Homo sapiens: one gene and its partners. The protein of the gene in region 1 purifies or fractionates together with the protein of each later gene. This does not show direct contact. Each region holds a gene or a part of one and is shown in the gene's direction. Other genes may lie near its edges. The genes, in order: ZNRF1, ATP1A2 and BHMT.

The links.
Region 2: the proteins of ZNRF1 (region 1) and ATP1A2 purify together in Homo sapiens (affinity purification with western blotting; one study listed by BioGRID). This does not show direct contact.
Region 3: the proteins of ZNRF1 (region 1) and BHMT purify together in Homo sapiens (affinity purification with mass spectrometry, with the first as the bait; one large-scale study listed by BioGRID). This does not show direct contact.

What each region holds. Positions count from the first base shown.
Region 1 is NC_000016.10:75,092,975-75,096,623, forward strand, and holds part of ZNRF1 (E3 ubiquitin-protein ligase ZNRF1), read left to right. Parts: intron 1-597; coding exon 598-693; intron 694-3,649. UniProt on the Homo sapiens protein: E3 ubiquitin-protein ligase that plays a role in different processes including cell differentiation, receptor recycling or regulation of inflammation. Mediates the ubiquitination of AKT1 and GLUL, thereby playing a role in neuron cells differentiation.
Region 2 is NC_000001.11:160,122,180-160,125,828, forward strand, and holds part of ATP1A2 (sodium/potassium-transporting ATPase subunit alpha-2 precursor), read left to right. Parts: intron 1-1,033; coding exon 1,034-1,237; intron 1,238-1,763; coding exon 1,764-1,877; intron 1,878-2,116; coding exon 2,117-2,251; intron 2,252-2,956; coding exon 2,957-3,074; intron 3,075-3,649. UniProt on the Homo sapiens protein: This is the catalytic component of the active enzyme, which catalyzes the hydrolysis of ATP coupled with the exchange of sodium and potassium ions across the plasma membrane.
Region 3 is NC_000005.10:79,125,220-79,128,868, forward strand, and holds part of BHMT (betaine--homocysteine S-methyltransferase 1), read left to right. Parts: intron 1-826; coding exon 827-1,009; intron 1,010-2,535; coding exon 2,536-2,764; intron 2,765-3,649.

The sequences.
Region 1 (3,649 bases):
GGTCTAAAGAAGATAAAACTCAAGTCAGGTGTCAGTGACCTTGGTTAAACCTTAACGAGGCACATAAGGCAGGGTGAGCCCTAGTGAAAGCTGGCAGTCAGTCAAAGGCTGCAATAAAAGGCAAATGCCACCGGGCGCGGTGGCTCATGCCTGTAATCTCAGAACTTTGGGAGGCCGAGGCGGGTGAATCACCTGATGTCAGGAGTTCAAGACTAGCCTGGCCACCATAGTGAAACCCCCTCTCTACTAAAAATACAAAAATTAGCCAGGCGTCATGGCAGACACCTGTAATCCCAGCTACTTGGAAGGCTGAGGCAGGAGAATCGCTTGAACCCGGGATGCAGAGGTTGCAGTGAACTGAGATCGTGCCACTGCACTCCAGCCTGGGCGACAGAGTGAGACTTCGTCTCAAAAAAAAAAAAAAAAAAGGCAGATGCTCAAATGAGTCCTTGAAGGAGGACAGGTCCAGGGTCTGTTCTGATGGTCATCCTCCACATTGACCCTGAGCCCACATGGCTGTCATTCGAGAGTGTCCACATGTACTGTGGATGTACTGGATCTGGAGAAAACATTTCATCCCATTCTCCTCTCTTTCAGGTTTCAAGTGCCCCATTTGCTCCAAGTCTGTGGCTTCTGACGAGATGGAAATGCACTTTATAATGTGTTTGAGCAAACCTCGCCTCTCCTACAACGGTAAGGGCTTGGCCTGCCTCACCAGCCTCCAGAGCATCCGTCGGGGGAGCCGGCCAGTCCTTGTGGGAGCCTCCAGTCGAGGGTGGTTCTGGGCAGTATTTTCACCCTGCCCTCTGGCAGGTGTGCCTCAGTGGTGGTGAGGAAGTGGACTGTTCTGGGAGCCTTGCTGCTCAGGTCAGAGAGGAAGAGGAGTGGGACAAGGAAGGAAGGCCCAGGGGTCAGGTCCGAGGTCTGGGAAGGCTCTCGGGCTGCTCAGTTAGGCCCCTGCCTCTCTGCAACTCAGTTCTGAGGACTTTGGCTGGGAGATGCAGCCTTTCCTTCACCCTTGACTGTGGAAGGCCCCAAGACAGCCAGGTGTCCTCCACGGCTTAGCAGAGGGGCCCAGAGCAAGCACCCGCCCTCCTTGGGGAGGTGGGGGCTGTGTGCTGGTGGCATGCATAGAGTGCTGGGAAGCTGGTCGTCTCCTTGTCACGTTCGAACTCGGACGAACACCTGATTTAGTCCTATGAGTCCACACCAGAGAGCTTGACGGGGGACTATGTGTGACATAGAGACGCTCTGGGGATTGAAAATGCGGATAGGACACCTTGCTGCTCCACCCTGGCCATGTTGCCTCCTACCTTGGAGGCTGCCTCAGAGCCGAACAGTGAATACCGCAGAGGGTAGGACCCTGAGGGCAGGGGATTTCAAAACACCCAAGCTAACCTAACAGGACGCCTCTGGGAAACAAAATGACTGTCAACATCTGCCTAGCATGCTGTGCATAAGGCTTTGGAGTCCAGGTGATGGGAGTTCAAATCTCCCTCTACCACTCTGTGTCTACAATCTTATACAAGTTGCTCAGCTTAGCGGAGCCTCAGTTTTCTGCTCTGTAAAATGTGGATAGCAATACTTGGTTCATAGGATTGTCAGAACTGGGTAAGAGATGGCACATAAAGGCCTTTGGTACAGAGCCTGGCACATGGTCAGTGCTTGGGAAGTTACAGCTGCCATGAAAGATGTGAGACCTTCATAGGTTTCTTTTTGCAGTTTTCCAGAGCCCACAGACTTCTCCTCAGTGCTGCTCAGCCCACGCCACTGCTGACCCTCGATTTTCCATGCTTAGTGTTTAGTCTGGTCTCCAAACCATGTTCATCAGAAAACGGCATCTTCCACTAGACCAGGCAGTGGATCTGAGTGCACTCCAACCCTGGTACTGGCCCACCTTCCCAGATTCAAGTCATAGTAGTGGTTGGAAAAAGAGTTCTGGGATTTCTGAGAGCATCTGAGGACTGGATCACGCAACCAGCCCAGCGAGAATGTTTCCTAGGGAGACTCTTCTCTGCCCTGCAGCCTCCTCACTCCCAGAGGGCTCTTTCCCCTACAAAGCATGAGCCTAGGAGGGATCATGGTCTCAGAGCATTTCCTGGGAAGTAACTGACTAATGGCGTCCACTCAGGTCTCCTGAAAACTTCTCTCTTAATTACTTGTTCAGCCAAAAGACTCTGGATGCAGGTGGGCATATTACCCACGTGGCTCAGCTCCATGCATTTGTTAGGCCATGCTCAGGTGGGAGGACCCGCACGGCCCTCCCCTGGGCATCATAGCTGTGGTCTGGGAAGCCCCTTTCCTCCCCAGGGGACAACGCCTCCTTTCTCCTGGGCTGACTGCTGCCAGTTCTCTAAGTCTGTTGTCACATGTGCTGCAGGCTTCGCGTCAGTCCTGTCGCATGCATGCTGTCAGGACGCTCAGGCTCAGCTTTGTCCCTGTTCGCCGTCTCCGCTTGGGACCAGGGAGGGAGAGGAGCCTTCCCTGCGTCTCACAGCCCTCCCTAGCCATGGCCTCAAAAACCCTATTCACTTCTTTCCCACATGTGTGGAGACCTCATGAAGTCCTCCGTTTGTCCTGTGGGTTGCTAGGGCGTTCTCTGTAGACACTGCGTTTGTTGTAGGAAGAATACAAAGAAGCCTCAGAGGGGCTCAGCCTGAGAAAACCTGGCTCTCAGGAAGAACTTTGCAAGAGCAGCCGTGGAGGACAGAGTGCTCTTGGGCCCCCATGGCCCAAATGCAGAGTTACCCCCACTGCCCTGTGGAGAACCGGGAAGGTGAGGCTGTCCAGCTCCTCTGCCAGAGAACTGCCTGGGACGCCACCATGTGTCCCCCTGTCCCCCTCTGTATCAGCACTTGAGTGCCTGGCGCTGTTGGTTTACCCCCCTACACCCCACCACCGGCAGCCTCACCCAAGACTACAGAAACCACACCGGGAGCCGGGCCCCCCTTAGAGGAAGGGGAGATTGGCCAGCCAGCCTGAGGCATGACCACTGCTCCTCTGGTTCTGGTTCTAGTTTTTCCCTTGTCATGGAATTGAGGGGCAGGCCACCTCCTCAAGGGTGCATGTGTTTCTGTATGTGTGCACGTGTGTGTGTGTGTGTGTGTGTGTGTGTGTGTGTGTGTGTAAACTAGAGGCTTTACACCTAAGGCTCTCTTTTGCAAAAGCCAGTCCTTTACCACTGGAGGCAAAGAGAGGCCAGTTGTCTCCAGTCCTTCCAGTGGACTTTGTCTCAACGTGGTGAAGTGCTTTGTTCAGAAACAATGGTCCGGCCCTCTGTGGACCCTGTTCATGTGGTATGGACTCCTCATGTTCAGTCTTTGTCTTTTCTGAAGACCCTAAACCTTCCAGGTAAGAGGAGAGCATTTGCTTCCGGGGGTGTATGTGGAGTGGGCATCCCCAGGCACGCCCAGGGCCTGCTCCAGCTCAGAGAGAGCACAGACCGTGGGCCAAAGCTCAGGAGCTCCAATGTATTCCCCATGATTTGTCATCATCCCAACCTCACCTGCTGCATGTTACCTTTTCTAATTTAAAAAAAGACTTAAGAGTCAGAGGTGTGAGTTCTTGGAATCTTTCTGGAAAGGGGGCGAGGCGGGGCTTTCTTAGTGAAGAGTTTTCTTATGAAGATTCACTAGAACTCCTGGTCACT
Region 2 (3,649 bases), on another chromosome or scaffold:
TATGGGCCTTCCCTGACTGCTCTTTCTAAAATTCTATGCCCCTATTCCTTTACCTTACTTTATTTTCCTTAGTAACACTTTTCTATCTGGCACTAATATGTATTTGTTTATTGTGTGTCACCTCTCCAGATCATAAGCTCCTCAAGGGCAGGGACTTTGTTGGTCTTGTCCATCTCTGCATCCGCAGAGTGACAATTGTGCCTGGCACTGGATATACATTTATTAAATGAATGAATGAATGAAAAAAAAAAAAAAAGAAACGGTCCCTGCTTTAAAGGAGCTCAAAGTCTAGTAGCAGAAAAAATGCAATCCTAGGATTCCAATGCAATATGGTGAGTGCAGCTCTAGAATCAAGTATAGAACACCATGGGGAACCAGAAAGAAGCATCTGAACCAGCCTGGGGCTGAGGGAATAGGGCCAGGCAAGGCTTTCTGTGGAAAGTGACAGGTGATTGCCAAAGTTGTGTGACACTGACGGTCAATAATGTAGGACTTGAGCAGGGTGTGGAGGTGCCCACCTGTAGTCTCAGCTACTTGGGAGGCTGAGGTGGAAGGATTGCTTTAGCCCAGGGTTCAAGGATGCAGTGAGCTATAATTGCACCACTGCGCTCCAGCCTGGGCAACATAGCAAGAATCCATCTCTTAAAAAAAAATCTAGGACTCTCCTAGAATCCTTGATAAAATAATCTGAAGGAAGAGAGATGGGGAAAAAACAGTTGAGGTGTCTTTCCAGGGAGCTTATCCAGACTGCCTCCAGGGGAGATGTTATGGCCCTAACCATAGGTGTTGTCTCAATCCAATATAATTAGGGGTCAAGCCCAGTCAAACCCTTCTCAGCCCTCAAGCCCTCCAAGTTGCATCACAAATGCCACCTCCTCCATGTGGTCTCTCCTGATGGTCCCCCACCCCTTCCAACCAGGTGGGACTTTCCTTCTGGGCATTCTTCCCATGCCCGGGAGCTGAAGGGATGGGCATGGTGACTGGCTGGGTTGGCTCCGGATGCGTGCCCCTACGCCTCTCCTTGCTCCCTCAGGGCCTCACCAACCAGCGGGCTCAGGACGTTCTGGCTCGAGATGGGCCCAACGCCCTCACACCACCTCCCACAACCCCTGAGTGGGTCAAGTTCTGCCGTCAGCTTTTCGGGGGGTTCTCCATCCTGCTGTGGATTGGGGCTATCCTCTGCTTCCTGGCCTACGGCATCCAGGCTGCCATGGAGGATGAACCATCCAACGACAATGTGAGCCCACACGCCCGACCCGGGAACAGCCCGTGACTGTCCTCCAACCCTGAACCCCCAACACAGTGGGGGGTGGGCAGGGAACAAGGCCCTCACATAACAGTCCTACAGATGCCCCTGCATCTTAGGCTGGAAAGGGGAGAGGCTTCTATATATATCTGTAAAGTACTCCTCCGCCAACAGTGCATACACATTCACATACTCATTAATTAATGAAACAATCTCTCCCTGTTCCTCCCCGCTTAAGTGAGCCTGTCTGTGTGCCTGGGTCTTCATCCCCTAGCAAAGTCCTAACCCTGGGAACTTCCTAAGACTTTCCCTCCCATTTCTAGTCTTAACAGGCTTGAGGTTGGCAGATCAAGGGGGAGGTTAGTGAGAAGGGCTTTCCCCTACCATCATCACTCTCAGTCACAGACAAAGGTCTGGGCTGTCATCTTGGATGGCACTGCCTGCTCATCCCAAGTGGCAGCTGCCCCTTTAGGGTTGGGGGGAAGGTCAGGTCCCTGAAACTCTTTCTCCTTACCAGCTATATCTGGGTGTGGTGCTGGCAGCTGTGGTCATTGTCACTGGCTGCTTCTCCTACTACCAGGAGGCCAAGAGCTCCAAGATCATGGATTCCTTCAAGAACATGGTACCTCAGGTAAGATGGCAGGGCTGGGCTCTGGGCTAGGCTGTAAGGTTTTGGCAAGAGTCCAGCTCATCTTTTGTCAGCTCCCAGGCTCTAAGATAGAGATGGACAGAAAAGATCCTCCAGCTTTCCATGCCAGCACCTAATTGTTTATGGGGCTTCTCCTTCTGCTTGACGGTGTGGGAGACCAGCAGGAGAAGAAGGCAGGGGCAGAGACAAGCATTTCATGAGCTGCCTGTGGCTCCCCACAGCAAGCCCTTGTGATCCGGGAGGGAGAGAAGATGCAGATCAACGCAGAGGAAGTGGTGGTGGGAGACCTGGTGGAGGTGAAGGGTGGAGACCGCGTCCCTGCTGACCTCCGGATCATCTCTTCTCATGGCTGTAAGGTGAGGAGGTCATACCAGAGCAAGCAGTTGAGTCTAAGGAGAAGGCTGTGTGCAGAGCTGAGAGGGGCCCAGTGAGGTTTAAAGGTGGAGAGACCCAGGTCCAAATGTCAACACCATGCCTATGCCCCTGCTAAACCTTCTCTCAGTGTGGGGTGCTTGTGCAGTGCCTCCTTGCATCTGTGTGTTATGAATGCTCTATGCCCCAGGTATTTCTTTGTTGTCCACTTTTTAGCAATCATGTATTGAATACCAATTATGTGTCAGCTGCTTTATATATGTTCGATGTGCTATCTGATGTAATTCTGAAAGAGTGGTGTAATCATGCAGGGCTGCTGAATGTGGCCACACACGTTGCATCCTGAATGACCCCAGGAGGTGCATTTTCATAACTACAGTGTTAGTGTCTCCCCCTGTGGTTGTGCAAGGCAGAGATTCTGTTTACATTCACCATTTTACAGTTGAGTACATGGAGGCTCTCTTGGTTAAGCAAGTAACCCGAGGTCACATAAGAAGTCAGGAGGAGTCAGAATTCCAAACCAGGGCAGGGGCAATAGATGAGTAATGCCATAAATATGTGATGAGGGCAAGTGTGACTTTGTTCCTCGTGTCATGAAGATTGAGTGTGGTTGGAGGTGGTTCAGGAGACAGCTGTGTGCATACAAGTGGCTCTGCCAGTCTGATGACTATGCACTCCTTCCTCCTCAGGTGGATAACTCATCCTTAACAGGAGAGTCGGAGCCCCAGACCCGCTCCCCCGAGTTCACCCATGAGAACCCCCTGGAGACCCGCAATATCTGTTTCTTCTCCACCAACTGTGTTGAAGGTGAGAAGCCAGGCTGCCCCCTGTAGGAAAGAGTCTGAATCCTGAATCCATAGTCAGGATGAAGGGCTCTGGTAGTACTTACCTGGCAAAAGCTCTGCCATTGGTGGGGCAATTGAGGGGTCAGGGGGCCCTGAATATTATGGAAACACCCTCCACAGAGCAGGGTATTGACTGAGGGCAGCCTGACTCCATGGGAAATGTATCTCCCTTCCCCAGGGAGATCTCTGTTCTGTCCACCCCAAGACTGAGTGGATTTCAAAGCTTTCAGGTATTGGGTTAAGAACCCCTTACGCATGCGCACACACAGATGCACATACGCTCAGAACCAACCTGGATTCTTAGGAGTCTTTGGATTTGATTGATGCTTCTATTCCTTGTGGTTCTGGGCCTCGCTGCCCCCTTCGATAACCTTTGCTTTGGCCAGGGCCCCAGGGTCTGGGAGGGCCAAGAAGGCATTCTGGCCAGGTGAACACTTGGGGCCTACTTCAGGCTGCTTCTAACCTTTGTTACATCAAAAGACATGTTTCACCATGCACAGACTACCCAGTTTGCCCCATCCCTGTTCTGGGTTCTAG
Region 3 (3,649 bases), on another chromosome or scaffold:
GGCTGAGCTGGGCGGATCACAAGGTCAGGAGATGGAGACCATCCTGGCCAACATGGTGAAACCCTGTCTCCACTAAAAACACAAAAATTAGCCTGTCGTGGTGGTGTGCGCCTATAGTCCCAGCTACTCAGGAGGCTGAGGCAGGAGAATCACTTGAACCCAGGAAGCAGAGGCTGTGGTGAGCTGAGATCGTGCCACTGCACTCCAGCCTGGGCAACAGAGCAAGAGTCTGTGTCTCAGAAAAAAAAAAAAAAAAAAAGAGATGGACAGCCAAATGTGCACAAATTACACTTCAATTATACCAGACTCTTCAAAGCACTTTCACAGAAAGCACTTCCTGCCTGCTAGTAATCATTCTCACTCAAAGGTAAGAGGTTTGTGGGGAATGAGGACCTAATGCTATGCTTCCAGTTCATCATTCCAATTAAAAGCTTCCTGCTGGGTGTGGTGGCTCATGCCTGTAATCCCAGCAGTCTGGGAAGCTGTTGGATCACTTGAGCTCAGGAGTTCGAGACCAGCCTGGGCAACATGGCGAAACCCCATATCTATAAAAAAACAAACAAACAAACAAAAATTAGCCAGACGTGGTGGCACACACTTGTAGTCACAGCAACTTGGGAGGCTGAGGTGGGAGGATTGCTTGATCACTTGAGGTGGAGACTGCAGTGAGCTGAGATCACGCTACTGCACTCCAGCCTGGGCAACAGAGTGAGATTGTGTCTCAAAAAATGAAAAAAGAACTTCCTGATTCCTGATGAAGAGAGGAGAGCTGGCCCTGCTGGTTTCTGGTGCATCCCTAAGTCTATCATGTTCTTCCCACTCACAGGAGCATCCATCATTGGTGTGAACTGCCACTTTGACCCCACCATTAGTTTAAAAACAGTGAAGCTCATGAAGGAGGGCTTGGAGGCTGCCCGACTGAAAGCTCACCTGATGAGCCAGCCCTTGGCTTACCACACTCCTGACTGCAACAAGCAGGGATTCATCGATCTCCCAGAATTCCCATTTGGTAAGACCAACATTTGATGAATCATCTCAATATCTTCATTTGATATGCATATAAACTCAAGTAAATCTATACCCAGAGATCTTTTGTCATAGTGAAGAGATGGCTTGGTGTCTCCTCATGTCTTGTCCCTGGTTTCTGTCCCTGCAGCCAAAAGCCCCTTCGTATTAGAGAAGAGCAGAAGGAAAGGATGGTCCCAGCTAGCAAAAAAGATCTCTGAATTTAAATATAAAATCTAAGGTGAATCAGCATCTAAACAGACAACTAGTGAGTCATACTTTGGGGTTGGTGAGGATGCCCTTCATGGGAGAATCAACAGATATTTAGTTCTAGTTCCAGCTCTGTTGCTAAGTCCTGTCACCTTAGGAAAATCTTTAAATTCCTCTAGCTCTCAAATTCTTTATTGGGAAAATAAGATCAGACCAGTTATCTCTAAGGTCCTTTTCTCCAATTTTTAATATGGCTCAGCTACTCCAGAGTTTTGGGATTGCAGGCAAGATACCATCATCGAGTGACTGTATAACAAGTTTTAATGAAGAGACCAAGCAGATGAAGTGAGGGGATACTTGCAGTCCAGGCAGAAGGAAAAACTTTCCCAGCATGATTGGGAAGAGCGGGTGGGTTGATCTCACAAATTAAGCCAGAGTGGTCAGCAGGGGCAGAGCATGCCCAGCCTCCTATTTCCTTCTAAGGTCTTTACACCCTATCCTATATTTTATAGGGACCCTTAGACAAGTAAGATATTATAAAATACAATCACTCTGGAGGAGCCACAGAGGAAGAAAGGCAAGGCATTTGTGTTACTTACTGCTGTATAACACATTAAATTAATGCAAAATGTAGTGGCTTGAAAAACCACTTCTTATCTCACAGTTTCTCCAGGTCAAGAATTCAGGGATAGCATAACTAGGTGGTTTTGGTTCAGGGTCTCCTAAGAGGTTGGAGTCCGGATATTTGCCAGGGCTATTATCACCTGAAGGCCTGTTGGGAGCTGGGGGATCTACTTCCTAGCTCACTTAATTGGTTTTTGGGAGTTAGTGTCAGTTTCTTGCTGTCTGTTGACTGGGGGCCTCAGTTCCTCAGCTCATGGGCCTTTTCACTGTGATGCTAGAAAACATGCTTGAAACATGTGATGCTTGCAACATGGCAGCTGGCTTTCCCCAGGGTGAGTGCTCCAAGAAAGTGCAAGGCAGAAACCATGATGTTTTGTATAGCCTAGACTCTGAAGTCACATGCCAGTTCTGCCATATTCTATGGATCTCACAGACCAGCCCTGTTATAATGCAAGAGGGGACTGCACAAGAAGAAAAACATCAAAGGGCAGGGGTCATTTGGAACCTCCTGAAGGCTGGATACCACAGCATGTAAAAGTGAACATACAACACAAAGTAGCAAAGTTTTTTCTTAAATGTAAAAATTGAATATTGAAAACAATTCATTTATTGAAAATTACATACTTGTAGCTACTTATCTTGAATTTTTATGAAAAGAATGTATAATGCCTAATGGCATAATGCCACTTATTACAGGACTGGAACCCAGAGTTGCCACCAGATGGGATATTCAAAAATACGCCAGAGAGGCCTACAACCTGGGGGTCAGGTACATTGGCGGGTGCTGTGGATTTGAGCCCTACCACATCAGGGCAATTGCAGAGGAGCTGGCCCCAGAAAGGGGCTTTTTGCCACCAGCTTCAGAAAAACATGGCAGCTGGGGAAGTGGTTTGGACATGCACACCAAACCCTGGGTTAGAGCAAGGTAAGCATCTTTTTACTAACCCAAACTAATTTAGATTATGAATATGTTCAAGTGAGGCCATTTAGAAGACTGCAGCAAATTTGTTGTGTGATGATGAAGAATCAGTCATCCCCAAATTCTCTCCCAGAGATGTTTACAAAGCATCCTTATTAGGTGATTTCTGGAGATTGTTTTAAGAATATAGAACGTATTTGACCTGATTTTGGATTTTGAAAAGAAAAAGAAAAATTTTTTTAAAAATTGTTTTTAAATATAGGCTGGGTGCGGTGGCTCGCGCCTGTAATCCCAGCACTTTGGGAGGCCAAGGTAGGAGGATTACTTGATCTCGGGAGTTTGAGACCAGCATGGGCAAGATGGCAAAACTCCATCTCTACTAAAAATACAAAAAAAAAAAAAATTAGCTGGGCATAGTGGTGCATGCCTGTAATCACAGCTACTTGGGAGGCTGAGGCACAAGAATTGCTTGAACCCGGGAGGCAGAGGTTGCAGTGAGCCAAGATCACGCCACTGCACTCCAGTTTGGGCAACAGAGTGAGACCCTGTTTTAAAAAAAAAAAAAAAAAAGAATATAGCATGTAAATAAACGTAAGTGGCAATGAAATGTGATTTTGTGCTCTAGTAAAGCACCATTAGTGTGGTGCACAATACTCTTAAATTGCATTGATTTTTAAGAGTTAAGGACCACTTAAGTATAGCTAATACTGATTGTTCTATATCAAGCATGATTTTCAGAGCTGGGAATACGGTGGCAAATAAGACAGGCAAGGTCTTTGCCCTCAGAGTTTACATTCCAATGGGGAAGATGAATAATACACTAGTAAAAAAAAATGTATGTCAGGCACTGGGAAGGGCAGTAGGAATATAGAAATGAGAAGCCGTGGATTA